Linked DNA regions of Homo sapiens: region 1 is linked to region 2. The links come from fine-mapping of genetic effects on gene expression. Tissue or cell type: adrenal gland. Region 2 holds a variant in brackets; the other region holds the start of a gene. All regions are shown on one strand. Distances are from middle to middle. Region 1 holds the start of SPAG17 (sperm associated antigen 17). Region 2 overlaps SPAG17 (sperm associated antigen 17).

Evidence for each region. PIP is the estimated chance that this variant, and not a neighbour inherited with it, causes the effect.
Region 1: SPAG17 starts here. The variant in region 2 is fine-mapped to the expression of SPAG17 in adrenal gland (GTEx, PIP 0.96).

Annotation. Positions count from the first base shown.
Region 1 is chr1:118,178,609-118,191,462 of GRCh38, forward strand. SPAG17 (sperm associated antigen 17) reads right to left here and starts at 6,620. Exons shown (of 49, transcript NM_206996.4): 1 at 6,463-6,620. The coding sequence starts at 6,549. LOC105378930 (a long non-coding RNA gene) reads left to right here and starts at 6,622. Exons shown (of 4, transcript XR_947746.3): 1 at 6,622-7,205; 2 at 7,547-7,673.
Region 2 is chr1:118,139,064-118,151,917 of GRCh38, forward strand. It overlaps SPAG17 (sperm associated antigen 17), which reads right to left. Exons shown (of 49, transcript NM_206996.4): 2 at 12,166-12,306; 3 at 11,480-11,566. Among named protein-coding and RNA genes, the nearest start is that of SPAG17, 40 kb to the right of the region's middle. The variant C/T (reference allele first, on the strand shown) is at 7,045.

The sequences.
Region 1 (12,854 bases), 40 kb after region 2:
ATGAAGGACATCCAAATTGAAAAGAAATATGTCAAATTAGCATTGTTCACAGACATGATTTCATACTTAGAAAAATCTAATGACTTCACCAAAGAGACTGTTAGAACTGATATATTCAGTAAAGTTGCAGGATACAAAATCAACATTCAGTAAAGTTGCAGGATACAAAATCAACATACAGCAATCAGTAGCACTTATATTCACCAGCAGCATACAATCTGAAAAAAAATCAATAAAGTAAGCCCATTTGCAGTAGTGATAAAATGCCTAGGAATCAATTTTATCAAAGAAATGAAAGATCTATACAAGTAAAACTAGAAAACACTGATGTAAGAGATTGAAGAGGATATACACCAAAAAGAAAAGATATCCCATGCTCATGGATTGGAAGAATTAATACTGTGAAAATATCCATACTATCCAAAATAATTTACAGTTATGCAATCCCTATTAAAATACTAATGACGGTCTTCACAGAAATAGAAAAAAAATCCTAAAATTTACATGGAACCACACAAAACCCAGGAGAACCAAAGGATTCTTAAGCAAAAAGAGCAAAGCTAGAGGCATCAAACTGATTTCAAAATATAGTAAACAAATCTGCATGGGACTCACATAAAAATGGACACATAGACCAATGGAACAGAATAGAGCACTCAGATATAAATACACGAATTTGTAGTAAACTCATTTTCAACAGCAGTGCCAAGAGCTTACAATAGGAAAGGACAGTCTCTTCAATAAATGGGAAATAAATGCTGGGAAAACTGGATATCCATATGCAGAAGAATGAAACTAGACCCCTGTCTCTCTCCATAAACAAAAATCAAATCAAAATGGATTGCAGACTTAAATCTAATACCTGAAACTATGAAATTATTAGAAGAAAACATTGGAGAAATGTTTCAGGACATTGGTCTAGGCAAGTATTTTTTTGTGTAAGACCTCAAAAGCATATGCAACCAAAGCAAAAATAGAGAAGTGGGATCATATCAAGTTAAAAAGCTCTGCACAGCAAAGAAAACAATCAACAAAGTGAAAAGACAACTCATGGAGTGGGAGAAGATATTTGCAAATTATCCATCTGACAAGGGATTAATAACCAGGTATTTAAGGAGCTCAAACAACTAAATAGGAAAAAACCCCAAATAATCTGATTTAAAAATAGGCAAAGGATTCAAATAGACATTTCTCAAAAAAGATGTACAAATGACCAAAAGGTATATGAAAAGATGCTCAACATCGCTAATCATCAGATAAATGCAAATCAAAACTACAATGAGATATCATCCCACCCTAGTTAAAATGGCTTTTATCAAAAAGACAGGGAATAATGAGTGTTGGCAGGGATGTGGAGAAAGAGGAACTCTTGTATACTGCTGATGAGAATGTAAATTAGTACAGACACTATAGAAAACTGTAGGGAGATTCCTCAAAAAACTAATAGTAGAACTACCATATAATCCGGCAGTTCTGCTACTTGGTATATAGCCAAAATAAATGATATCAATGTATCAAAGAAAGATTTGCACTTCCATGTTTATTGCAGCAGTATTCACAATAGCCAAAGTATGGAATCAATCTAAGTTCCCATCAACAGATGAATCAATAAAGAAAACTGTATATATGCAGTACATATACACAATGAAATACTATTCAGCCATACAATATGAAATCTTGTCCTTTATAGCAACAAGGATGGAACTGGCGTTCATTATGTTAAGTGAAATAAGGGAAAGATGAATATCGTATGTTCTCACTCTTATGTAGGAAATAAAAAAGTAGATCTCATGAAGATAAAGAGTAGAGTGACAGTTATCAGAGGCTGGGAAAAGTAGCGAAGCCAGGGCATAGAGTTTGCTTAATGGGTACAAATATAGAGTTTGATAGAAGAAATAAGTCCTAGTGTTTAATAGATCAGTAGAGTGACTATAATTTACAATAATCTATCATATATTTCAAAAAAGCTAGAAGAGAATAATTGGAATGTTTCTAGTATAAAGAAAAGACAAATATTTAAAGTGATGAATATCCTACTTATAGTCATTTGATCTTTTCAAACTATATGATTGTATTAAATTATGACATGTACCTCTAAAATGTGTACCTCTATTACGTATGAATACAAAAATAAAATTGATAAAAAAATTTTAAAGGGAGTCCTTGAAGTTGAAATGAAGGATGCTAGATAGTAGCTGAAAGCTATAAAAAATATAAATTTCTTTGGTAAAAAAATGCATGGACAAATTTATTTTTAACAGTATTATTGTAATCTGATTTGCAAATCCACTTTATTTTCTACAGGAGTTAAAGAAAAATGTATAAAATTAATTATAAATCTATGCTAATGGGTACATAGTATATAAAGATGTAATTTGTGACATCATAAGTCATGCAGAAGGTGAAGCTGTAAAGTGAATTTATATAAGCAATTGATATTAAGTTAGTATCAATTTAAGACAGATTATTATAATTTTATGATATATGTAATCCCCATGGTAACCACAAAGAAAATATCTATAGAATATACACAGAAGAAAATGAAAAGGCATTCTAAACATGTCACACAAAAAAATCAACTAAACAAAGGCACCAATGGAGGTAACAAAGGACAAAAAAATCTGTCAGGCATATAGAAAAGAAATAATAAACTAGCAAAAGTAAGTCTTTTCATACCAGTAATTACTTTAAATGTACATGTATTAAACCCTACAATAATAAAACAGAGACTGGCAGAATGGATTAAAAAAAAAACAAAACTACTCAGAATCCAAGTATATGCTGTGTGCAGAGATTCACTTTAGCTCTAAGGATATGCATAGGTTGAAAGTGAGGAACAGACAAAGATATTCCATGCAAATATTAATAGTAACCAAGAGAGAGCAGGGGAAGTTAAGCAACTATTACACACAAAAAAAGACTTTAAGTCAAAAGTTGTTACAAGAGACAAAGAATAAAGACACTCAACATCACTTATCATTAGAGAAATGAACATCTAAACCACAGTGAGCTATCATCTCATATCTGTTAGGACAGCTATTATTAAAAAATCAAAAACAAAACCAAAAAATGAACAAAAACAAACCTCACCAAAAAATAAATAAATAAAAAATAAAAAGTGCTGGCACAGATGTGGTGAAATGGAAATCCTTGTACATTGTTGGTGGGAATGCAAAATGATGTAGCCACTGTGCAAAATGATATGGTAGTTCCTCAAAAAATTAAATCTGGGCACAGTGGCTTAATCCTGCAATCCTAGCACTTTGAAAGCCCGAGGTGGAAGGATTGCTTGAGTCCAGGAGTTTGAGATCAGCCTGGGCCACACAGACCCCGTCTCAAAACAAAATTAAATACAGAATTATCATATGATCCAGCAATTCTACTTCTGTACACATACCCAAATGATTTTAAAGCAGAGACTCCAACAGATTTTAGCACACCCACAGCCAAGAGGTGAAAGCAACCCAAGTGCCCATCAATGAATGAATGAATAAATAAAATGTAAAAAGTAAGGAAATTCTGAGACATGTTACAATATGAATGAACCTTGAAGACATTATGTTAAGTAAAAATAAGAGTCACAAAAAGACAAATACTACATGATTCCACTTACATGAAGTACCTAAAGTAGTCAAATTTGGAGAGAAAGAAAGTACAATGGCAGCTTCCAGGGGGTGAGGAGAGGGAAGGATGGGGAATTAATATTGTTTAAATAGTACCGAGTGCTAAGGTTAACACTTCTTCCTATCACTGTGGCCAATAGAGCCTGCCTTGACCATTGCATGGAAAGATTTTAATCTCTATGATACCAAGGCATCTTTGACTTTCTAATGCTGCTAGAGATCATAAATATAATGTCTATGTCACATACATACTAACACAAAAGGGTATTTTTATCTTATTGCCAATGTACCTATTTTCTTTTTATATAATTTGAGATGTGATATTTCACTCATATCAGTAAGTTAAATATTTTGGTATATGGATAGCAAAGATAGTAAATGACCATTTCCTTGACGGAATTAATTTAGGAGCAACGTAGACCCAGAAGTGGTCTAACGTACATTTTTCTCCCAATCTAAATGTATCAGATTTACTTGGTGCACATATTAGTCTCCCTACTTAAAATAATCATGCTTCTTCATTCTACCTGTTCAAATTCCACCCATTATTTAGAGCCCAGGTGAAGGCAAATATTTTACAAATCATTTCCTGACTATCCCAGCCCATATTCATCTTCCTAACCTCTAGTCTCTATTTAATCATTTAGTGCTTAGTGATAGAATGCTTTGTATTATTTGCTATCATTTTATATTTTAAAACCAACTAAAATGTATGAAACAACTGATAATTATTCCAGCCTGAAAGGACAACCTGAGACAGTGATACAAGGTAAATTCAATAAAACCAAAATGTGAACTTGTTTATTCTCTTTAAAGCCTACCCAACATGAACATGAGTTCAAAAATACTATTGATTTGGGTTATCCAATGAGTTACTTCTAAAAACTTGTTTATGGAAGACTGGAGGAATTCTTTCCTTCTCTCTCACCCCCAGCACACACACATAATACAACACATAAACTAGCACACACACTCAACCACACATACTTGGACATGAGTAACAAGTGTATGGAAAGAAACTCTCTGGATACTAAAACAATAGAGCACACTACGTGTGCTCAAAATTCACACACCCACAGTCATCTATAACCTAAATTCAGAGTCCGTTTCATTGGTGGTTAGGGCACGCCTCTGGGCATTGAACTGCTGGGTTAATCTGGGAATTATTCTTTTAGATCAGACATGAAATCAAGCAGAGAAAAATGAGAGAGGAGGTGGAGGGTAGTTGTCTTTTTCCTGCAATAAGAAAATGTGTATTCCAACAAACTGAAGAAAATTGAGTTCACTGTTTATAGTTAAAACTACATATTACTTTGAGTTCAAATTCTTTCTATTAATACATAAGATTTATTGAAGTTATATTGTTTGAGTAGGATCAAGAAAGCTGAATATTATTTCAGGTTTTCAAGCCATAAGGACAAATAGTGCCTTTAGGTTTTCCATTCAACTAGGAAAATTATAGCTTCATATTTGCAACACTAAAGCTAATGCAGTGTCAGCACCTCCATCAAACTCCGTTGTTCAGCAGTTTATAATTCAAGCAGAAATGTTCACTCCAAGACCAAACTTGGCCTACACAATCTCAAAGAAAATGGAGAAAAAATTATTTTGGCTAGCGCTGACTTATAAAAGCAAAAGAGAGGGTGCTTTTACAAAGTGCTTTGAAAAACATCTTTGAGAATTTGAGAATGTAACTGGGGATTACTGAGTTGACATCCAGCATTACTAAAGTTATAGAAAGGACCCAAAATTCCATGACATCACATCAGCATCAGGAGTATCACAACTACTTTCATGAAATTCTTCATCAGGACTAATTTCCTTATCAAACAGAATTACTGTTAATAGGAAAAAAAAACAGTTATAGTGGAAAATAAAGACAGGTAAAAATTTCTCATGAAGGCAACACAAGACTTTAGATCCATTTTCCCTTTAAGTACTGACTCTCTAGTGCACCATACAGACATATATAAAATGAAAAAAAAATTTTTTTTCCCCACTTTTCAAAGTAGTTCATAATGGCGGGCTGGAATTTCCAGAAACAACTTTTCTCTTCCCAAATGCTAACTTGTACGTAGAAACAGCTTAATGTAGAAGGGGATTTCCAGCTGCAGGTGACAAGAGCTATTGGGCTCCTCATTTACTGAAGCTGGGTGGGGAGCCAGTGAATTCTGGGATCTCATGCACTTTGAAGTCCTGTGGTAGGTGGTTTGTAGATTGCCTGGTGCCTTTGTGGCATTCTGTGGGTAAGTTGGCCGCCAACCCCTCATTGCTCTGATCTCCCACACCTTAAAAATATGTCAAAACTTTAATATAGTGGGATCAGGGCATTACATTAAAAAATCATCTTTTCCTATCTATACAAGGCTCGCTTGTACTAAATACAGTGTAATTCTAGGCACTCCGTGTCTGTTTTCACTCAGCATTTATTAAAGCCCTATTATGGGCCAGGCCACAGATGATTTGATGCGATTCTCATCCTTTAGAAGGTTTCAGGAGAAAACAAAAAGTCCATAAAAGGAATTCCAGTACAATTGTGGAGTGCCATCTGGACGACTTCACTGAAAAGGTTCTGGAGGTGTCAGAGCGACACCTCCTCTCTTCCCCACTAGGCAGTTCTCACCAACCTTTGAAATCACACTGACTCACCTGGTGGGTGTTCCCTTAAGTTCCGTTCGTTTATCAAGCACTTCCTGTCCCTGGGACCCTGGGTCCTGGAACCATCAGGCCACGGAGAGATACGGAAGAGAGGGCGAGCCTTAAGGCGTCGCCTAGGAGGGTCTGGCCGGGCCTCTGGCATTGCCGGGGGCAGGGAGGGCTTAAAGGGCTCAAGGCTCACCTGATTGAACTGTGCAGCTATGAGCGAGGGTTCCCATATCTTAGAACTGGTGTTCACAGTTCCTCCTTTCTCCTTCTTGGGTGCCATGCAAAGGACGGGAGAAGCATTGGCCTCTAAACTGGGCGCAGGCCCTGCCTAAGCGTCCCCGCTACCACAGTAACCGAAGCCACGCCCAGTTCCTGAACCACGTCGGCTCCCCTCCCCCAACACCGTTCGGAATCCTTGGGTCAACCGCCTCCGTCTCCACAGCAACGGAGTTTCAGAGCGCGCGGCAGCTTGGGGGCGGGGTTCCCAGTCCCCCGGTCAAATTTTAGGACTTTTCAGCAGGAAAGCTGCACAACTGGAGGAGGGCAGGACGAGGCTGGCCTCGCAGGTCGGGCTACGTTCTTCTACGGTCTGAGGCGTTGTCTAGAAACTCAAAATCTCTGGAATCCCATCCAGGACTCCTCCATCAAGATTTCTTCCGATCCTGAGTAACCAAGATTGGAATACTGACCCCTTCAGGAGGCAGCCCATGCCGTTTTTTCCCAACCGCTCTAATCTGCCCCAAATGCTTCCTTATATGAATCCAAATTTGTCTCTCCTTGACCTCTACCCTCTGCACTGTTTCAGCCTCCGCCTCTGGGGCCTTACTAAACAAGTCCAATCACCCTTCCACGTGACCCCTTATCTAACTGTAGGTGGGATTAATGTACTTATCTGCCCAAACAGCTCCAGTCCTTTAAACTGCCTTTTATTGATTGGTAAGTAGACTTTTTTTTCCCCTTTTTTCCCACCCTGCACTCATCAATATCTAAAATATCCTGGTTGGACAAGTTTCCCAAAATAATGATAGTAATAAAAACCATTGTTTCTTGGGCACTGGTTATATGCTATATACAAGATTATTTCATTTAATTCTCACAACCACCTTATCCAATTCCCACAGTGTCTGATTGATGGTGCCAGGATTAGATCCCAGGATTATCTGAGTCACAGATCTAGTGTGCATAACTGCTACACTGCTGTCTACTACTGTTTTAGGCCTGCCAAAATGAGGGATACCCCCTTCTGGAGCTAGATTTACTTTTGTTTTTTATTGCAGTGAGACAAATTTGAGGACACCCTGGGGCAGAGCGCAACCAAAGGTGCCTTGCGGTCTCATTAGTCATATGGAATTCAGCACTGACCAGGGCTTAACTAGCCATTAAGGCCCTGCACTTTGCCTAGAGGTGAGATGCTTCAGTTATCCCAGTGGCCCAGATGAGTGAGGTGATGCAAGCCAGAAACTTAATTTCCCTGGGCACAACCTGATGAACGGGTGACCTTCCACGGGGGATGTTCTAAACCTTTTAATTGCTAACCCTTTTAATTTCTTTGAGGAATAAATTGAGGGAAGGAGGATAGTGCTATCCAGCCACTAGCATCCTTTTTCATTTGGGGGCAAATTTTAATGATGATGCTTCAACTTTTGTTCGTAATTTGGACCATGAAAGGAAGTTTATCTTTCCACCCTAATTCTTTAATATAGTTAGAGTGAGCCCTCCCATCATCACAGTTCTTCATCCCTGGATTTAACCAACTTTGGATCCAAAATATTAAAACATAAATAAATATACAAATAAAAATACAGCATAACAACTATTTTACAGCATTTACATAATATTAGATATTATAAATAATCTAGATATGATTTAAAGTGTAGGAGAGGATGTGCGTAGGTTATGTGCAAATACTAGGCCATTTTATTGAGAGGTGAAGCCAGCTGGACTTCCTGGGTTGAGTGGGGACTTGGAGAACTTTTCTTACAACAGGATTGTAAAATGCACCAATCAGCACTCTGTAGCTAGGATTGTAAAATGCACCAATCAGTGCTCTGTAGCTAACAAGGGGATTGTAAAATGCACCAATCAGTGCTCTGTAAAAATGCACCAATCAGTGCTCTGTAAAATGCACCAATCAGCACTCTGTAAAATGCAGCAATCAGCAGGATCCTAAAAGTAGCCAATCGTAGTGACGATTGAAAAAAGGGCGCTCTGATAGGACAAAAACAAAACATGGGCGGAGACAATAAGGGAATAAAAGCTGTCCACCACCAACCAGCAGCGGCAACCTGTTGGGTCCCCTTCAATGCTGTGGAAGCTTTGTGCTTTTGCTGTTTCACTCTTCACAAAAATCCTTGCTACCACTCACTCTTTGGGTCTGTGCCATCTTTTTTTTTTTTTTTTTTTTGAGATGGAGTCTCACTCTGTTTCCCAGGCTGGAATGCAATGGTGGATCTCGGCTCACTGCCAGCTCTGCCTCCCAGCGGAGGCAGACTGGGTTCACAACAGTCTCCTGCCTCAGCCTCCTGACTAGTTGGGACTACAGGCGCCCAGCACCACACCTGTCTAATTTTTGTATTTTTAGTAGAGATGGGGTTTCACTGTGTTAGCCAGGATGATCTCCATCTCCTGACCTCGTGATCCTCTCACTTCAGCCTCCCAAAGTGCTGGGATTACAGTCGTGAACCACCGCACCCGGACAGGGTCCATGCCATCTTTAAGAGCTATAACACCGTGGAAGCCTGGGCTTCATGCTCGAAGTCAGCGATACCATGAACCCACCGGCAGGAACCAAATGCAGACACATCATTAAGGGACTTGAATATCAGACATTTTTCTATCTGAGAACGTGAAGGGTCCTGGAACTAATTCCCTGTGGATACCAAGGGACCATTGTATTAAAGAAAAATAATTTCTAGAAACAGTCTTTCACAGAAACTTTACAGAAAAATACGAGTTTTTATTTCTTGCTGGAATAAATACAGTTCATCTTCTTGGGAGGGAATAGATAGATCCTATGGCAGCCTGGCCATAGGCTAAATAATTTACATCTGGAAGCCCTCTTTTGTCATGAAAATAAAATAACTGATGCATGGTAATGCCAGAGAGAGATCTGCCAGAAAAGAATTTTCCTGAGAGTCTATAACAACACCGAGGCTGCTGTTAATTTTCATAGCATTTTCTCCAAAATTTTGTTCCTCACCAAAATTTTTTCAGCATTTGTAAGATGAAAATTTTCTTTGTATTATGGCTAGAAAATAAAGTTGAGTCTCTTTCAGACCAAAAAAAAAAAAATCTACCTAATCATTAATTAGATCATTCTAAATTTTGATTAAGTTCTCATAGTTTTAAACTGGGGGAAAAAAAGTCCTGCCTTTTTATTTAAAACGTAGTAAAAAGTTTGTTGGCATTCCGGGATATTTTATTAAAAAATTTAGCTGTTTGTGCGTGTCTCGCTACATTACTAATATTCTTTCTTCTTGAATGTGAACGCACACTTCAAAATAAACCATTACCTGCAATCAGTTTTGCCAGATCACTAGCAGATGATTAATAAAATACGTTGCAGATAAGAAGAGGAAAAAATAGAATAAGCAGAAAAAAAGTAAAATTAAGTGTTATTTAAAAATTGCAGAGATAGTGTCACTAGCCATTTTTTTTAACAAGTGACAGCTGTCCAACCACAATATTGGCAGCAGTAAGATGTTTGCAATATTTATTGTGACAGAAACTATCCAGTTGTTCATCAGACATTTCCTTTTATTTTCTCCTAATATGGGAGTCAGACATTTTTTGGCCTTCCTTATTCTTAGATGTGAACATGTGACTGAGTTCTAGCCAAGCCTGGCCTTGAAAAATGTCCCCCAGCATTCTTCATACCCTTTTTGCTTGATATTGGGGTGGCATTGAAAACCTTGAATCTCTGAATGATTGCTGTGACACAGAGGTCTCTCCTTCCCCTGAAGATCATCTTGCTCCTCCCACCAAAAGCATTTGCTTGGGACTATTATGTAGGTGAGAATTAAACATTTTTCTTAAAGCTGCTGAAGTACTGGGGTTTGCTACAGCAGCAAGGGTTACCGTAACTACCCTAACATTTTTTATCATTTTCATCTGAGAATCACCTGTTAATAAATCTAACACCAGCCAGCCTTTCTGAAACTGCCTGAGAGAAAAACCTTGTTACTTTCAAGGAGGCAATACACAATGCTGGCCACTGTGAGAGGCAGGAAGATCTAATCCCTACCTCCCCACTACCCCATGCATCTAGTGAGATCTCGATCTCACCCTTTACCTTGCTTTCCATTTGCATATACAGTACATTCTTTCGCTTCTTTATCTAGTAAATAAATTTCTTACTTTAAACAAATGGTTTGCATAGTTAAGTAATACAAGAAACTAGTCTTATATCACCTATACTTAGGAAAAAATGTTCCTATTTTTCGGAAGATAAACCAACTAGATCCATCACCTAGCTATCCATATACATCATTTATAATTTTGAAAATGATTTAAAGGAGTTGAACATTTTAAAAGCCAAAAATAAATATTTCAGAATGGAAGAGTGTATTTCTAATATAATCTTTTATAGTTTCCTTGGTAAAGTCCTACCAGAAAACATTTAAATATAAAAGGTTTTCCAAAATTGATTTAAGGAGTTTAAAATAAAGGTTTTATTACAGAATGCTTTTTGCCCAGTTTTGGCCTTTTCCATTATTCTAGGGAAAGTGGTGCTCTAGATAATTTATGATACAAAATGGGAAGATATTATACAGTAACCAAATTTATAAGGGGTTTCGTCATAGAATTGGTCTGTTTAATTTCAGAAAATAGGTGTGAATGACAATGTTCACAATTTGAAGTAGCAAAAGTCATTCAGCCAAAAAAGGACCCTGCCAAGAACAGAAAAAAAGCATTACCATCTGTCATACGTTTATGCTTTTTTGGTATAATAAATTGTTTCCCCCACTAAATATAAGTTGAAACTTTATAAGCATATACTTTACTACATAAATTTTCCCATATGTCAGTGGCTAAAACAAAACTATACTATTTGGAAAATTTTCTTTCACATTGGCAGGGTTACTCCTGGTTTGTTTGATTTAGTTTTTCCAGTATGAGTTTGCATTTGATATGTTTAGCTTACCAAAGACTGTCCACTTTCAGGGATGCATGATTTCTTTAGGCTATGATTACTAAATAAGTTATTTCTTCAAGTATTATGCTTTGATCTTATAATTCACTCTTACTCAGGTGTGAAGTCAGCCATATTACTTTTCATACTTGAAAGGTTTAGCCAACTATTGATGCATCCAGTACTTCCATTGTTGTCAGGTAACAGCAGGAACTATAGACCAAGTCACTTCTAGGCCAGGATTCCAGGTATTCAAAATCCATTTAGCTGCAGCAACCAACTTGCCTTGGGTTAAGAAGGCCTCACAGATGTCTACTGATTTCTCCAGTTGGTATCCTACATCCAAGAACACCTCTCGGTATACATATGTCTTGTTCACACCATGATCTTTGCATTTCTAACCTTCAAAATAGAGTGCTATAATGCCCTGTCTTTGAGTTTTTATTGTGTGTGATACAAAGGGCTAGGTGTCTTTCAGCTACAGGGTCCAAAACATATGGAGAATATTATACCTGCATTCTATGGTCAGCATTAGCTTCCTATTTATTTTTGAGTGCTATTTAAAGTGTTGACTTTAATCTTTAAAACCCCTCATTGTTTAGAAGCCAGTTACTCCAGATATCACATCTCTCCCTATGCATCACTGTGGCAATTAAAATCAGCTGCAGTGCTTGCAATTTGTAATCCCGTGTGAATTCTGGGGAGCCTGGGAGTAGATCACTTTCCAGAGAAGAACTACCCTAAGAACCCTCAGTTTCTGTCAATGATAAAAGCAGTATTTGTAGTTTATAGTTTTGGCCTTGAATGTCTTGTCATATATCTGTAAGTGTCTGGAACCATAATTAAGTGCTGTTGATTTAATTTTTATGTTATTTGTAGTGAGAGAGTTTAGAATACCAAATCTACATTTAATGAATCAGAAAAATAACAACTGTACATAGTAAAAATAGACAAAGCTAAAAGTCATCTGTTTCATATTTGTTAGTGTGGGAGTTTTCACTCTAGTGTTCTCTCAAGTCCTTCTTTGAATCTAATTTTAATATCTTCAGTGAAGGGATTTGCCCTGAATCCTTAGGGAACCATTTCAAAATCCATAACTCATGTAATTTATTTCTCTAAATGCTTACCTAAATGTTTGATTTCTTAATGTTTTATCAGATGTCTGTTACTTATAAATGTGTGCTATGTTAAATAATAACTTTCTTTTTGCTGTATACAAGGTCCAAAAGCTATAGTTGAGGTAAACCTACTCCAATCTAACAGACTACACCAAGTAATATTATGCCAGATCATGGAACATTCTTTTGGAGAGAACAGATGATTGGTAATGGGGCTCTGAGGACCTGGTAGCACTGTATATGTGGCTTAGGTGAAGAGTGGTGTCTACCACTTTTCTTACCCATCCGTCTTCAACTTCTCATTCCTTTTTCCAGCCTAACCCTCAGCCTTCTTCA
Region 2 (12,854 bases):
AGGCCCAGACAACTCAATAACAAGAAAACAAAAAAGTCAATTAAAAAATGGACAAGAAAAAAAATTTAAAAAAAATGGGCAAGAGACCTGGGGTGGATAGACATTTCTCAAAAGAAGACATGCAGATAGACAACAGATATATGAACAATGCTCAACATTGCTAATTATTAGGGAAATGCAAATTAAAACCATAATGTGGTATCATCTCACACCTGTCAGATAATTTTTTTCAAAAAGATGAAAGATAACAAGTGTCAGCCAGGATGTGGAGAAAAGGGAACCCTTGTACATTATTGGCAAGAATATAAGTTACGACAGCCCATTATGGAAAACACTATGGAGGGTCCTCAAAAAACTGTAAATAGAATTACTATATGATCCAGCAATCTCACTTCTGGGTATTTACCCAAAAGATTTGAAATCAACTTGTTAAAGAGGTGTCTGCACCTCCATGTTCATTGTAGTACTATTCACAATAGCCAAGGTATGGAATCAATCTAAGCGTTCATCAACATATGGATAGATAAAGAAATATGGTATATACATTAAATGGAATACTATTCAGCCTTAAAAAAGAAGGAAACTCTCATTTGTGATGGAATCAGAAAACATTATGCTAAGTGAAATGAGTTGGGCATATAAAGACAAATATTGCATGCACTCACATGGGGAATCTAAAAATCAAACTCATAGAAGCAGAAAGTAGAATGGTGGTTACAGAGACTGGGGGGTGGGGGGAATGGAAAGATGATGGTTGCTATTGTTTGAATGTCTCCTCCAAAACTCATGCTGAAACTTAATCCCCATTGTGGCAGTATGATAGGTGGGACCTTTAAGAAGTGACCAGATAGGGCTTTGCATTCATGGATTACTGGGTTAATAGATTAATAGATGATCACAGGAGGGGAACTTGTAGCTTTATAAAAAGAGGAGGAGGGACCTGAGCTGGCATATTAGCATATTCGCCCCCTTGCCGTGTGATTTCCTGTGCTACCTCAGGACTCCGCATGGAGTCGCACCAGGAAGAAGGCTCCCACCAGATGGGTGCCCTTGACCTGAGACTTCTCAGCCTCCTTAACTATAAAAAATAAATTCCTTTTCTTTATAAATTACCCAATTTCAGGTATTGTTATAAGCAACAGAATACAGACTAAGACAATAGTCAAAAGGTAGAAAATCTCAGTTTAAAAGGAAAAATACATTTTTTCTTTTTTTAAATTTGCACAGTGTAGTGACTATAGTTAATAATAGAGAATTGTACATTTCAAAATTGTTAAATTTCAAATGTTCTCACCACAAAAAATGTTAAATGTTTGAGGTAATGGATATGTTAACTAGCTTGATTTAATTATTCCACATTGTATTCATAAATTATAACACCACTTTTTACCCCATAAATGTATTCAATTATAAATGTCAATTTACAATAAAAAGGAATGAAACTATAAAACATAAAGAAAGAAAAAAAGGATATTTTTATTCAGTCTCTCAGGCCAGAACTATGGGATTCACTCTTGATAGCTTCTTCTTCACCCCTCACATCTCACAAGGGCACCGATCTGCCAAATTCTTCCTTCTAAATATTCTCCTTGAATCTGTGTGCTCTCCCCATTGCCACCTGGATACCCCCAGTGGCCTCCTAACTGGTCTCATTTCCATGTTTGCCTGCCTTCATCCTAATTTATTCTTCACTTGGCAGCCAGAAAATATTTTTTAAAAGAACTTAATTGTGTCATTCTCCTCTTTAAAGTCTTAATGGCTTTCTAATTTCCTATGAAATAAAACGGCAAACTCCTTTTTAACAAGGACTCACCAGCCAGCAGATGTGGCCTCTTTGGGCTTCTCCTGTCTCCCACTCTCAGTGCTACAGGCACCCGGGCCTTCTTTATTCCTGCCTTAGGGTTTTTGCACCCTCTGCCTGAATATTTTCCCTTGCTCTTTTCAGTTGGATCTTCTTTTCCTTTCATTCATCTCCAAACACTCAGCCTACAGTGTTTTCCTCAGTAATTCTCTCTGATTTAAAGCAATGAAACTAACTCAAAATTGTGTATATATTTGTTTGCTTGTTTTGAGTTTTGCTTAATGTCCGTCTCCCCCATTCAAATGTAAATTATATGAGGCCAGGCAGTTATAACTATTTTGTTCACCAAGGTCAATCCAATCATAGATTTTGTACATAATAGACCTTTGAATATTTATGGAATGCATGAAAATGAAACATTTCCTAAACCTTAGTCATTGACTATCATTTGATGATTTAGCCAAAGCTATGTACCACCTGTACTATAAACCTAATCATTTTCTCTAAGCTGACTGTAAATCAAGTTTTAAAAAAATAAGGTAGCTCTGTCCGAAGCACAGTGTTGGGGGAGTTGCAAGTTAGTCTAATTTTATTTTTTAATGCACATTAAAATAAATGTCTAGGTAATAAAGCAAATCTTTATCCATTATATACAATTTTCTTGTGGTAAATAAATGAGCAAGAACTTTTTAATGAATGAGAACTCCCTTCTGCCAGGTGTAGAGCAAGCTCTAGACTATTAGAAGAACTGACGCTGATTCCATTGGTGACTGTGAACAAATCATTTAAGTTTTTGGGCTTCCATTTCTTCATTTGCACTATGGAGATTAATTTTAACTGTTCTGCCCAGTTCACGTGAAGATTTAATAAGCAGTGTGAAAATCATCTTTTTACATAAACATGAAATTTTATTTTTAAAATTATTTATTTTAGAAATGGTTACTACTGCTGTTTGTTTCTTAAGGTGTTCCGTCATATTGACCCCTTACATGACATAACAAAGAAGAATAATGTATATTAGTCTCCATCACGGCCATGAGGACTAGTATAATGGGACACTGCAAATATCCTTTGACCACTGATTAACTTCTTTTCTTCCCTTACTTGCTTAATTAAATGTCTACTTAACTTTCAGTAATCATACTCCACTTAGAGAAAAACCTCCTCACAATGTGAACACCCACGTTCATAGCAGAGCTAAGAGGTGGAAGCAACCCACGTGTCCACTAATGGATAAATGCATAAGATAAATGTGGTATATACATATTGGAATATTATTCAGCTTTAATAAAGAAGGAAGTTCTGACACATGGTACAACATGAATGAACCTTGAAGACATTATGCCAAACCAGGCACAACAAGACAAATACTATATGATTCCATTTATATGAGGTATCCAGAGTCGTCAAATTCGTAGAAACAGAAAATCGAACAGTGGTCATCAGGGGCCAGGGTGCAGGAGAAATCAGCAGTTGTCATTTAATGGATATAGAGCTTCAGTTTTGCAAGATGAAAAAGTTGTGAACGTTGGTTGCACAACAAAGTGAATATATTTAACACTACTGAATTATACACTTAGACATGGTTAAAATGGCAATTTTATGTTACATATTTTTACCATAATAAAAAAAATTTAAAGCCTGCTCATAAATGGGTTTCTAGTATTTTCATGTTCTGATGTTGAATATTGCTGAGAATAGAAATTTTAAAAATAATAGTAATAGTAATAGCTAAACTTTATGGACACTTAAGTCTGTGCCAGGTAATAAGTATTTTATATTTACTATCCCATGTAATCACCACTACAGCTTTATAAGATAGATACTATCATTTACGAGGATTTTACAAAGAGAAAACAGAGGTACAGCAGGGTTATGTAACTCGTGCAAGATTACACAGCTAGCAAGCAGTGGAACCAGGACATGATCCCAGGCAGTCTGGTTTGGTTCCATACTTTTAACCACTAGGTATATCGCTCACCAAACTAGTGGTAGGTACTCTGGAGATGAATTTACCTCTAATTAGTTTTAATTAGTGAGATTTTAGAAAGGTCTCTCCACACTTTGATCTCTGCTGAATATGTATTAACTTCCCTCTTATTTTCCATCTTTCTTTCTTTCATCCTCCAAAGAAAAGACATGGTCACTTAACCATATAAATCTTAACCATAAGAATTAAAAAACCCTGTTGACCCAAACATGTGGGCAAAAGCCACTCATCGAAGTGGCTTAAAAGCTCCAACTGAAATTATTTGATCTCTTCATCATCTGCAGATATACCTTCATGTTTTTGCCTGAGTAGAAGGAAAAGTAATAAACATATCATAGAACTACTGAGAGATTTAAAGCTTAATTCTAAGTAACTAGCAGTAGCTTATATTGAAGACATATTAAACCACAACAGTCACTTCCAGAATTTAAACTATTTATTCTCAGCTTGTGTGTGATGCAAGTAGAAAAAACAGACTTCTGAATCAACAAGTTACCTAACCAGTCTGATTCAAATTTCATCATTCATAGGTATCTGAAAGGTTGTTAAGATGGTTAAGTTAGCCAGGTGCAGTGGTTTACACCTATAATCCCAGTAATTGGGCTGGCAGGGGCGGGAGGATAGCTTGAACCCCAGGAGTTCAAGACTTACCCAGGCAACATAGCACGCTCCTGTTCCCCACAAAAAGAAAAAAGCCAGCCAAAAAAAAAGAGATTAGGTTAGTTGATATATATGAACTACCCAGCACACAAGACTTGGAATACATGTGTTCAATAAGTGGTAACTTTTATTATCACCATATGTAATTATTGATTTTTCACAGTTTTAAATACAGAAACAGAATGATACAATCTTCTTGATTCCTTCCCCAGCACCCCTCCAATCCTGGTGTCTGTAGAGTATAGGGTGTTAAGAGGTTTCAGAAACCACCCCAGCCCAGACCTGGAGGAGAAGCTGTGATGACTTCTCTTCATTAGCTGAACCTCACTTTATTCTTGTGGCTGGCCCTCCACTGAGGTCTGTCTTGGAACTCCTGATGAGATTCCTGCCTTGCCCACTGCCTGCAGGTCCTAGCCAGCAACCCAGTCCTTGTGTGGCATGGGCTTCCTGCTGCTGGATCCCCGGCTCCACTGCATCACCACCACACCTCCCCAGTGTCTACCTCCCCTCTCCTGGACTGCTAACTATTTGCCACATGGGCTTGGCCAGCTGCCTGACCCCCAGGGTGGAAGAGAGCTGGGGCATGATTTGAATTGTTTTTGAATGCCTTTACTTGAGTTCTGCTTTTCTTTGAAAATAGAACTCCAGGTTTCTGATCTGGGAGGCAAACGTATTCACACCCTGGGAGCCCATTCCTAAAGCAATGGAGCCCTGACCTTCTGCCCCTCAGTGACTAGCTTGAACTTGACTTTCTCTGCTGAGCTGCTTTGGTGCCCTCCAGAAATGTGGGGGCCCAGGGCTGTTAACACATCTGACTGCTCTTTTCCCCATCTTGACAAAAGTCATTCATTTGTAACTCTTCATAGCCCTTTGTAACCGTTTCTAGCATTACTATTTCTCCTCTTCTTTCCTTCTTCGGGTAAGAAATGCCTCCAAAACCCAGATTTTGGCACAAGAACTCCTAGATTGTTTTTATAGTCCCAACGTAGCACTTCTTTGTTACAGCTTGATATTCCCAAATTTTGTTCCAAGTCTCATTATTTTACATTTATAAATATCAGGTTGTATTAATTGGTTCCAGCTTTAAAAAATGTTCCATCAGGGGTTATTTCTGCTATTTTGATAGTGGTTTCTAAATGTGGAGTGCCGAGGCCCTGGTGTGGGCCACGTTCTGTAGGCATCCCTGAAGGACTGATGTGGAACGGAAAGATCCGCAGATTCTGAGTCTTGCTGTATTCTTTGAAGACTGTACTGGCCATAATAGCTTCAAAGAATTTCAACAAGTTCCTAAGACATGACCTTCCCTTTCCGAAAATCACGTTGGCCAGGCTTGCCTTAATCAAGCTGTGCTTTTCTAAGCATCCTTTTACTTGATCTCCTGCAGCAGTTTTTAATACTTTTCCTACAAGTGAAGTTAAACTAACTGGCCTGCAATTTCCTGGTGTGTCCCTAAGCTCTATGAAATAACGGCATTAGGTTGGCTAGCTTCCAATTCTTCCAGAATTTTTTTGTTTTGTTTTAAAGCGCGGGATTGAAAAGGCCAGAGAATGCTTCCTGTCTCCCTTTTCCTTCGTTTCTTCCATGACATACTGCTCTCTCTGTTCCCAGTAGAGCTGCCATTTTAATAACTTCAAACCTCTTAAATGTTTTCACATATTATTTGTACCTATCTCTGAAGCATGAGTTTTCCATTTTTCATTCTGACAAGGGCCACCCCCAATATAAGGGCTTACAATTCTATTAAATTGACTATTAATTCAAGGCACTGTTTAAAAAATGAGTTTCATATCAGGAATCTGAAAAAGAGTGGCAAAATAGATTATAATTAAGCCTGTGTTCTCACTTGTCAATTACTAATAAATACATGTTGGAAAAGACCTGAGAAAAATTTCTATACATCCAGGAAACAGAAGTCAAAAAATGGAACTATTACATCTGGGCATACTAATCTGAGGCACTAGCATAGTGTCTTAAAGTATGGTGAAATGCATTAGATCTGAAGATCTAATTTGCATTCTACATTTTATTAAACTGCATTTGGTCCATTATTTTTAAATCTAATATCAGAAAAATCTTTCCACATTTGATGGTCTCCCGGTTGCAATAGAAAGGCCCGTAGAAATATTTTAAGATATATTTGTTAAAAAGTTATTTTAAAAATTATTTTCTTAAAAATATGAGAATTTTTTTACTGACAGGAGTAAAAAAAAAATTAATAATTATTTGCATTTACAAAATTGCACCATATCACATAATGTTTAGGATAGTTCAAGTTCTTTATTGTACAGAAACTTGGAAAATTGTTTTGAAATAAGTGAGTCATCAACTAGAGCATAAGAACTTTTATTCTTTATAGACAATTTTTGTTTCAGTAAGCTTTTCATTTTTTTTATTTTTCATTTTGTGATGACCTAATGCGTCTTTTATAAATAAGTCACAGGCACATAAATCACGGCCCATTTGTGTGGATGAAGGCTCATTTCCTGGTTGGTAGGCATGGTGACCACCATCATGAAATGAAAAGAAACATGAAGTGGAATTTAAAAACTTTTAGGATGGTTGGTTCTGATTTCAGATAAATTGGATAAGTAAA[C/T]CCCTATCAACTAGTAGCTTTTTCTGATTTACCAAAGTGATAATGTCAAACCTAAAATTTGCACATTTATCCCATAAAGTTCACTTACTGTGTATCAGATTTAGTCACAACTGGGAGAATCTTGGCATCTATGGTACACGTAGAACTCTCTCATCGAGAACATTTCAGTTGGTTTTGAATGACTACTGATATTTTCCTTTTTAATTTTGGTCAGGACTGACTATACCTGTAAATGAACAGGTCAGATTTTCTATGTGGGCCATAAAGCATACATACACAGAAAATTATTTGTGCATAGGTAGCAAGTATACTTAAGTTCAGGCATGAATCTAAACCATGTACTTTTTCCAGTGTTTGAAATGTTTCCTCATAGATTTCCATCTTTAGGATTTTAAAGTTGCCATCAAAATATGTACGGAATTCATCTTTCCTATTTAGCATATATTATACCATATAACTACAAATGTAGTACACATTAATTCGGTCTTCTCTCATTCCTATGGCCTTGCTTGAGCTATTCCCTTTTCTTAGAATGCCCTCTTCCACATTTGAAAGTCAAGATCTACCTATCCAAGGGGTAGACCAGTGAAAGATTACTTGGTTGGTGATAAAGTAGAAAAACTTGGTGCTATAGGTTTACCTTTGGTTAAATCCAAATTCTTCATTTTGCTAGTGAGCAGACTTCCTACCTTCTCTATGCCTCCATTTCCCCGTGCACACAATGGAGATTTTATCTTTCCTTTTAGAATTGTGATGTGGGCTAACTGATGTAATATATGTAAAAGATCAAAACTATCAGGACCTTTCCTTTCAAATGGCAATGTTTCCACAAAAATGTCTCTGGGTCTCACCCCTCCCTGCCAACTACCCCAGCTAATGATAATCTCATCTTCCTTTGAATTCTTATACACTTTACCTGTCTCTCAAGAACTTCACTATTTTCTGCATTGTGTTATTCACTTACGCAGCAACTATTATTGAATGCCTACCACGCGCCAGGCTTATGTCCATATACATTTTGTCCTTTTTTCTCTCTAGCTTGTTCTTAAGCTTCCTGAGGTTAGAGTCTTTGCTTCTTGAGGTTAGAGTCTTTATAATATTAATATTCCTTCCTCTCTCTTCATCGTCTGATAGTGCCTGGCACTAGTGCTTTAACGAGTATGTTTGTTAATATTCGGTAAAACCGGCTACTATATAATGCAGGCAATAAGCGTATATTTTCAAATGTGTCCATATCCTCAAGTAGGATTCACATGTGGGAAATGGTGCTTATATGCCAGTGCATGGGTTCATCTTCATCCTCATTATTAAATAATAATGAGATGATAAAGCAGTAGCCAACATTCCTGAGAATATACACAAATAATAATATTCTGTTCTCATTCCCACATGAGTTCTTGAAACAGTTCCTAGTAGAGCAAAACATGCTTTCCAAAAAGAGAATGTGAATGAACAAATGAGCTGCAGCTACGTCTCTACAGAATTACATTAGCACAAATCTAAGCAGCTTTTCAAAGAACTATGGTTTATAAATAAAGACTTTCATATATACAATGCCATGGCTAGATGAAATTCTAAGGTTTCAGGGGAAATTACACAATCTCATAATGAGGCTGTGTGTACACAACACCATGCCATCCAAATGAAAACTTGAGCAAATCACTTAGGAATGTGGTCTTTGCTAGCCCAGACATTTGGAGTCATTATTGGAAATATGCAATGTGGCTCTGACACTATTTTACTACTCATGGATGAAGTATACTATACAGAAGTCTCACTTTAGTTTGCTGCTTCTAATCAACCACAGGCTAGGAAACCAGAAAGCCTAATTGATTAAAATTGTGTTTAAAATAAGAATAACTAGGCTTTGATTTAAAGCTAACGAGAGTACCCTACAAGTAGAAGTAAATACAGGTGTTTAAATGCATGGCTGTTATATCGTGAGTTCCTTATCTCCAAAATGGAGGTTTCTAAAAAGTTACCATGTAACAAAAGGAATTTGTTAGATTATCTTTTATCTCTTCTCCCACAGTGCAGAGTTTCCTTTGAGAAATGGGATGTTGCAAGACTTTCGCTCCTCAGGAGTTTACCACTATCAAGTGTCCTAGTGTGTCTGGAGTTGATTCCTTCCAGTGGGTTCCTCGTCTCACTGACTTCAAAGAATGAAGCCACTGACTTCGTGGTGTTACAGCTCTTAAAGTTGGTGCAGATCCAAACACTGAGCAACAGCAAGAGTTGTCACAAAGAGCGAAAAAACAAATCCTCCACACTCGGCAAGGGTACACGAACCTGCTGCAAGGTGCTAGCTCAGGTGGCCAGCTTTTATTCCCTTATTTGGCCCTGCCCACATCCTGCTGATTGGTCCACTTTACAGAGCGCTGATTGGTCCATTTTACAGACTGCTGATTGGTCCATTTTACAGAGTGCTGATTGGCCCATTTTTACAGAATGCTGATTGATGCATTTACAATCCTCTAGCTAGACACAGAGCACTGATTGGTGCATTTACAATCCTCTAGCTAGACAGAAAAGTTCTCCAAGTCCCCACCCGACCCAGAAGCCTAGGCAGCTTCACCTCTCACTAGTTGGTACAACCATGCAAGATTCTAAACAGAAATAGATTCATGAGCACACTGTCCACATGTCTCAAAGGTCCAGAAGTCCCAAGAGACTTTCTGGGCCTATTCCATGGCCACCACTCGCAACTACCATGCAGCTCTGCAGGGGTTGCCAGTGACTTTTCAATTGTCTTGGGATGAGAGGTACTAGGTAGCAGAGTGCTTGAGCAGGTCCTAAATGTGAAGGGACTGAGATGGGAAATATTCCCCTCTTCTCCAGATGTGCAACCTGTCCTTGGCTGATGCTGACAAGGAGCCTGAATTTGTTTTATGGTCTTTATTAGTTTTGCTTCAGCGACTGGCATTAATGAATGTCTGGTGCACCTCAGGTTCAGTCTCCATGGCACTCCACCCACCTTCTCTTTTCTTCTGGAACCATTCAGAAGAGTGTATGTGAGCGAGTGTGGGAGGCTTATTGCCCAAATGCTCCACTGGAAGAATGTGGTAGAGCCAGATGTGAAATGGACCCCCTGAGTGAAGAATATGCAACCAAGAGTCTCAGCACATATTGGAGAGGAATGGCTTTCTAACTTAACTCTGGGTTTGTAATCTTGTGCTATCCCACATCCAAGTCAGAATGCCTGTCCAGACTAGACATCAAAACTAGGCTGCTATCATTTCTGATTTTTACTGAGTATCTGTGAAGAAGAAAGAATCTTTTGGGGGGTTAATTGATCCCAGGCCTGAGAATTGGATGTGGATTTCTATAGCCACTCACAAGAAAAATTCCAGTATTTTAAATCCACGTATCACATAATGTTTCAAGTGGAGCACACACATTCGGAACATTATAAAAAAGAGACAAAGTATATTATTTGACTGCAAAAGCACAGATAACTTTGGCATGATGGTGAGCGCCGCGTAGCAAGAGTTAATGCTATAAAATTCACAGCACTGTCTATTGTGAATAAATCCAATGAAACTTGTTCAGATAGTACTCAAGCAATACTAAATAGACCGTATGTAATCACCCAAGACCTGAGACACATAAAAACTTTATTAGTCATCACTGAAATAAAGTGCAAACAAGTTCGTCTTAGAAAGATTCAAAACTCTTTATGTTTTAGGTCGGCTGCTCCATAAAACAGTGCCTGACAAATTTTAAGTGATATTCTAATTAATCACTGGATTTTTATAGTTTCTTGAAAGCTGTAAGTTAGATATTAACAAGGCAGGGTGAGAAGAAATCCCCTTATACGGAGAATGAGTCCTACGTCCTTTGCACAAGCCCACTGGGTCAGCCAAGCCAGATTTTATACTAAGCAGCTGTTGGAAATGGAACGGACCATTAATCCGAAGAGTATCATTATTTTCATATCGATTAAAGTGGGATATAAACCGTGCACCAAGTTCACAAACTGATGGAAAATCACTGCAGCTGTACCTCTGTCTTATACAAGAAACACTTTCTGGCGCATTTTTACATTGTTTTTTTCGAGAAACTAACACTTTGTAATATACTGATCATATGACTCTCCTTAATGCTGTCACATACTCAGCAATTATCATGAGAAAGTATGACCCAATACTTTGTGTCTATAGAAGTTTCTGATTTATATTTTTCAATTATTTCAATTAGATGCAATGATGGTATAAACGATCTAGGAAATTGTATTTGTAAAGGGAAATTTTGAAATTTTAAAATTTTAAAAGGAGGCAGATTTTTTTTGTGTGTGTTCACCATCAGGAACAAATATCTCCAATGAGGAGCAGGCATTTATTTTCAAAGAATGAAATTTAAAAATGGCTATCAAATTATTACTTCAATTCTTTTTTCTAAAAACACAAAAATATCTTCTATAAACACTTTCACTTACCTCATAATATAAAGGAGCATTACCACCTACAGGTTTTTTTGCCTTTTTAGATGAAGCAGATCCAACAAGTGTATTTATTTCATTAATCTGTAAGAAAATTAAATTTACTTATGATGAAAAAAGCCTTATTTGAAGAATACTTAGATATATGTAACTTTCAAATATCTAGGTGATCTGAAGGGTTGGGGAACCTAGCAAGAAAGAGGTACCCATGAATTAGGTAAAATATTTATAGTTACTTCGTAAGCTGTCAGTAATTGTATGGGTATGTGCCACCTGGCAGATCTTTTCTATATTATTGCTGTCCTCTGACCTCTGACAGCTATGATTCTCTGTAGCCTTCATTTTCCAATTAGTCATGTACCTCCCTGGAATCTTAAATAGTCTAGTCTTTTATAATTATTTAACTTGAATTAAATATTTTGTCACAGAACCTAGCATGGTGCCTGGTATGACCTCAGAAATCTTTGTCAAATAAATGAATATTGAATTAACAAAATTAATAAACAAAAATAAATTCTTCCAGATTGAACAACTCAAATTTATTCTGGCTAAATAGTTACTTAAAATAATCCATCAAAATTTACAAAACAGCCCAAGAATATGATAGTTTATTTTATAATTCTATTCTATTATTTTAAGTAAAAAAGTCTTCAGGTGGCTTTGAGGTAGGAAGGGACAGGTACCTGCTGGAGAATGTCTTGCCACGACACCATACTGAAGAGTTTACGCTGAGGGACCTGGACAGCCACGGTAAGGGCTTGGATGAGAAGATCATCTTCAATCTGGTTCCCAACCACAAAAGCAATGGAGGCCTGCCAATCGTTCTATTAAAAATCAGACGGAATTAGATTTTAAATATTCCTGAATAGGTCATTTCGTGTCAAATATTTCCACTGAGAAGCAGAATAATTTTCCTGTAAATCTTACTTGAAAGACAGAGGTGACCTTGTAATGTATGTGGTTTTCTGATTGAAGTAGCCGCAAGGCGGCAGTATTGTGCCAAATTTCATGCAACTTGACCAAAAAACAATTTTCTGGAGAAACTAGTCCTTTTATTTTGAGGAAGACAATTTTTTAAAACGACACTTTCACTAGAATGTTGTCCAAGAATAATCTGGTGTTGGAAAGCAATCATTCATTCCTATGTCACAAATATACATTAAGATGTCTCAAAAAACAGGAATCTTTATTTTGTTCCCTGGTATATCCCAAGACTCTAAATAGTGGTAGGAATATAAAAGCAGCTGAAAAAAACTGTTAAATGTTGGGTCATATTGGATGAGCTGCCAAATGAGAACTGAACCACATCTTTTTCTCTTAATGTAACACAGGAATCTTACTGCTAATTACACTCCCAAGAAATGGGCAAAAA